Regions from separate parts of the Homo sapiens genome. Here region 1 is linked to region 2. A link means that fine-mapping ties the variant in region 2 to the expression of a gene that starts in the linked region. Tissue or cell type: fibroblasts. Region 2 holds a variant in brackets; the other region holds the start of a gene. All regions are shown on one strand. Distances are from middle to middle.

The links. PIP is the estimated chance that this variant, and not a neighbour inherited with it, causes the effect.
Region 1: it holds the start of ADGRG6, and the variant in region 2 is fine-mapped to the expression of ADGRG6 in fibroblasts (GTEx, PIP 0.92).

The regions. Positions count from the first base shown.
Region 1 is chr6:142,300,378-142,303,143 of GRCh38, reverse strand. ADGRG6 (adhesion G protein-coupled receptor G6) reads right to left here and starts at 1,137. Exons shown (of 25, transcript NM_198569.3): 1 at 813-1,137. The coding sequence starts at 814. RefSeq lists a silencer at 1,208-1,347.
Region 2 is chr6:142,328,091-142,330,856 of GRCh38, reverse strand. All of the region lies in intron 2 of ADGRG6 (adhesion G protein-coupled receptor G6), which reads right to left. Among named protein-coding and RNA genes, the nearest start is that of ADGRG6, 27 kb to the right of the region's middle. The variant A/G (reference allele first, on the strand shown) is at 1,457.

The DNA of each region.
Region 1 (2,766 bases), 28 kb after region 2:
ACAAGAAAAAGAAACTTCTTAGTTGGCCACAAAAATAAGCTTGGCCCTTTGGAGTACAATCTTCCTTTTCCCATTCTGGAAAGCCAGACGGTGCTTGGCGACCCTTTCATGGGGTCGCTGTGCGCCACCTCACCATTAGGATGACAATTCTATGGAGGCAAAACCTTTTAGGTTTCTCTGTTTCAATGCCCCAATTCCCCACGCCCCCCATAAGTCTATGGAAGTCCCCTCAAATCCTATCACGTAACGTGGCGTAACCCTTAATTACTTCCTAAACTACAAAGCACACTGAAAACATTTTCTGCACACCTTAAAAAAATTCAAACACCCCAAAGATCCAAGAATAACTTCTACAGTCAATGGTGACAATGTGTAAAGTCAACATTTTCTCGGCATACTAGTACCTTCCAAGCCCCCAGGTGTTGATTCCGGAGAGCGCCTTCTTGGCAGGGCCAGGCCTCTGGACTGAGGAGCGGTGCCTGTTACTCCTTGTTTAATTTGAATTGAAAACACGTTTTCCCCATTCTTGAAGCCCTGCCCTTCTTATTAGGCTTTACACCGCCCAAATGTGAGGTTTACCTCGCTGGGGGAAAAAAAACAGCCACACACACATGTCACAACTCCACTTGGCAATAGTCCTACTCCTCAGTGCCTCGAGGGGCAAACTGAAGACAAACCGGTTTATTCCCTCCGTGCAGTTGAAGTCCTTATAAAATCATTTCTCTTGAGGGTGGGGTGGTCGGGGAGGGGGCGACAGAAGGTGGACACAGATAAAAGAGTGAAGGAATTCCAAGCTGAAAGGTGAGACTTACATGTTGACATTACTGCGCCGAGGTCCCCTTTGGCCGCAAGATCATCCTCCACCACTTTCCCGCTCTGCTGCCGCTGCTCCACCCAGGGGGAACCCAGGCGCCCCAGCCCTGCGCCGCGGCGGGACCCTCCTTTACGCCGTTTCTGGAGAGTTCATGGGCTTTCCCGACGGCGCAAGGTGAACCCTGGGCGCGGCAGCGTTCAGCGCAGGGCCTGCGGACGAGGAAGCAGGCTGGCGGCAGGTCCCTCCTCGCAGGGAAGTTGGCAGGGTGAGGGCGAGAAGCTGAGGAAGTAGGGTGTGCGTGGGGCTGGTGCTGAGGAGACCGGGCCAGGCAGGGGTGCGCGTCGCAGGTCCTCGCCCCCGCTGGCGGGAGGCGGGACTCGGCCACCACCCTAGGTACTTGGGTCCCCCTCGCGGGCGCAGGCGACTCTCCCCGGACCCGTGCGCTCCGCCCGCGCTTCCGGCGTGACTGGAGCTGGGCTCAGGTGCGGCGGCCCCGGCGGCGTGCGGCGTATGACCCGACTCCGGCTGCCCTGGTCTGGGCGCTCCGCGGCTGGGGCTGTCCCGAAGGCGCAGCTGCCCCACACAGGATCTTCAACCCCAGGGCCGAAAGGGAGAAGTCGCCCCGCGGGGCGGGACAGGCGCTTTTGGAGCGAGCAGCGAAGGGAGAGTGGCCGGGGTCGGCGATGGGCGCAGAGCCGGGCTCAGCTCCCCAGCTGGGAGGGGACAGGGCGGACCCGGAGGTCGCCGAAACGCCGGGAGCGCTGAACCCCAGAGACCCTCGGCGAGAGAAAGGAGAAGCTGGGAAGGCAGGCGCTCCTGTGGCATCTCCCCAGCGTTTGCAGCCTACCCGAGTCCCCGCGCGGGTCCCCCCGCCACGCTCCCGGGCTGTTGCTTTGCTTCACTTTTCTGCCACTTTCTTTACTTAACTTTTCTGTCTTCTCTGACTAGTTCGCTTGCTCGAAAAAATGAAGGGATTTTAACGGGGGGCTGGGAAGATGGTCACATAACATTTTATTGAGAGGGATTGATTTGCCAACGTAAATCCAGCTGCTTGTTGGGGAAAGTTAGCTGCCTGCTCTCCAATGCTCCTGTAAAGTAGCTGTCTGGCAAAGGGATCTGGACACACCTCCTTGGGAATGAGAAGAGAGAAGGGCTCACACTTGGAAAGAGGTTTTCTTCCCATTGTGTACTGCCAGAGTTAGTCCACAAAATGCTAGAGGCAAACCTTCCGGTGCCAGGGCTGTATGCACATCCAGAACCTCAACAGCTCAGCTTGCACGGTGTACACACTGGCACATGCACAGGCCATACACAGAAGTGCCCTAACAATTATTTCAAGCTGATTAGCTTATGATAGAGAGCTGTTGGTGGGTGCGGGGGGTGGGAAGGAGGTAAAGCAGGACTTACTCACAGTTACAGGCAGAAAGGAAGCTGGAACGCTGCCACCAATTCCAGAGGCCTGAACATCTAGGGTGTGTTCTACTTGTCATTTTTATCAGTATTCATTTTGATGAATAAACGGTATGATTAATAGAGACGCTGAGTTGTAGCATTTAAGGGAAGCTAAAGTTCTTCTGCCCAACTGTCTCACGTTAACAGGTAGGGAAATGAGACTGACAAGATCTGAGGTCTGTGCACACTAGCTAGAGGTGACCAGGGGCTAAGATTAGGTTTCCAGACTACCCTTTTGAGTCAGTCGCTATTACACGGTATAGTCCCAAAGAAATTTAAGGGCCACTCTTGGAATTTTTTAAAAGCAACATGTATTTCACAGTTTGTGGGTCAAGAACCTGGATGCCCTTAGCTCAGTGTCTCTCAGGAGGCCACAATTGGAGTGGTGACTAAGGCTGTGGTCTGATCTGAAGGCTGGACAGGGGAAAGATCTACTTCCAAGTTCACATATGTATTTGTTCCAGTCATAGAATTTTAAAGTTAGAAGAAACCTGGAAACA
Region 2 (2,766 bases):
AATAAATTGAAAATCAATTTTTCAAGGTCGAAAGAGCATGTTTTTATACTCTGGTTTTGAAAATGGAAAGAGTAAGTTGTAAATTCCTCCTCCTCAAAACCCCAAATTAATGACAATCAGGGGAAAAGGCATATACAATATTTGCAACTTTCAGCCCACTAAATGCATTCCATACTATAAGGTTATAGAAAATCAAATCCATCTTCTTCTCAAGCATATTTTATTCCTCTTCCTGAAGGGAAAGGCAAAACTGTAATACATCATCTGTTTCTTGATTCTGAACAGAGAACAGAAATCTCTGAATCTAAAAATGGATCTGGTGACCTAGTATATTACATTGAGGGTTAGGGGAAGCCCTTTCCTTAATATGGTTTTCATGATTAATGAATGGCATTGCCATATTTACTCCCACATCTTTCCGGCTTGCATGAGCTTGTTTGGCTGAGAATAACATCAAGAAAAAAATGTTTTCACCACCGAATTTTTTTTCCACATTTTATTTCATTTTTTTTTAACTTGTAAGTTCAGGAGTACATGTGCAGGTTTGTTACACAGGTAAATTTGGGTCACGGGGGTTTGCTGTACAGATTATTTCATCAGCCAGGTATTAAGCCCATTAGTTATTTTTCCTGATCCAATGCAGCCATTAAAAAGAACGAGATCATGTCCTTTGGAGGGACATGGATGGAGCTGGAGGCCATTATCCTTAGTAAACTAACACACGAACAGAAAACCAAATACCACCTAATTCTTAACCTCTCCCTTTTAAAAAAAATTGCAGTGGCAAAAAAAAAAAATTGCAGTGGCAAATGAAAAATTTCTTCCAGCAGAATATGTTGTTTTCCTTGCCAGAGCCTAGTAGAGACTAAAATAAAGAAGCACACAACTGCAGGCTATATATGGGCTGCAGTGGAGAGTGAAGTTCATCAGTGCTCACGTATCTCACCTTTACACAGCTGTCTTCCCAGCCTCCTCCTTTTCTACTCCCTTCCTATAAGTGGCAGATATGTGACTGTTGTCATTGCACTGCAATTAGAAAAACTTAGAGAAGAATAAGATATCTTAAGGAGTAACCAAGAATGCATTAGCTACTGAAGTATTTGTACACCAATGTTTAAATGAAAAAGAAACCCTCAAGGCAGGAATACCTATTCACCACTCTAAGGTCCTTTCATTTACCCTTTGTGTTGATCACAAACATGACTCAATGATGGGAGCTTTTTCTACAAACAATGATTATTCACTAAGGGAAGGGGGAAATGCTAGTTTATATTAAATTCACTCACGTTGTGACAATTTTTGTTTTAGTAAGGACTGTGATGATCTCGTAAGGTAACAAAATAGATGCAAAAGGCTGCAGAAGATGGCTGATGCTTATACAATTATTTTCTTCCCTTTCAAAAGTGAAAATATTAGAGAAAAATGAAGAAAATAACCTTCAAATATTTTGGCATAA[A/G]TGTCTTCTTTATAGCTACTTTTAGTTACTAATAAATTATTAAAATGAAATTGCAAACAACACTCAGAAAGGAAAAAATATGGCTAATGAGCCATGAAGATTATATATTACCCCAGAAACTCTCCCAAATTGGTTGTCTCCCCAAAAGTTCATTTTTAAAGTCCTTGGTTGAAACTTAAAATATTACTTTCCAAAACAATACTTCATGATTCATTGTGCAAATAACTGTGCTAAATAATAACAACTATAGCTAACATTTTACTTATTTAATTATCACAAAGACCTCAGAAGGCAGGAAGTACCATGACTGCATTTCACAGAGAAGTAACTTTTCCAGGGCCCATATGAAGTGTAAGTAATAACACCAGTATTCCAACTTACAGTTCATCTTCAGAGCCCACACACTGAACCATTATACTCTACTACCATCTCAGGGAGCCAATGTGGGGATGTGGATATAAGTAAGAAAAATATTATAAATGCTGGACAGACTTTTTAGGTAGCTCAGGACAAAAATTAAACTACAATTTACCTCAATGTCAATTTCATCGATTAAGAGTTTAAAACAGTCCAATTTTAGCTAACATCGAAATCACCTGGAAAGCTTGGGCAAACACAAGTCAATGAGCGCTACCCCAGACTTTCTGACTCAGTAGGTCTGTAATGACGCCCAAGGATTTGCATTTCTATGGCATTCCCTGGTGATACTCTACTGTTGGTTCCAAGACCAGACTTCACTTGAAAAACCACTGGTATAAAACTCTCTGGCAATACTTATAATTGAAACATAATAGAAGAAATTTTGTTGAGTACAATTACTGAACTATAATTAGATTTAAAAAACACAACCTGACTCCTGGCTATCAAGATGAAAGAAATGGAATCAGAAAAGGATAAGCAGGTCAGCCCAGTGGCTCACACCTGTAATTCCAGAACTTTGGGAGGCCAAGGTGGGAAGATCACTTGAGCTCATAAGATCGAGACCAGCTGGGCAACATGGTGAAACACCATCTCTACAAAATACACAAAAATTAGCCAGGCATGGAGATGTGTGCCTATAGTCCCAGCTACTCAGGAGGCTGAGGTGGGAGGAGGGCTTGAGTCCAGGAGGCAGAGGTTGCAGTGAGCTGAAATCATGCCACTGCACTTCAGCCTGGACAACACAGCAAGACCTTGTCTCAAAAAAACAAAACAAAACAAAAGGATAAGCATGTAAGGAGGTGTAAACCTCCATAGCCTTTGCTTGATATTGGTGGGCCCTTTGGAGGTTTACCTCCAAGATAATGGAAAAAACAATGACTAAGGACTAA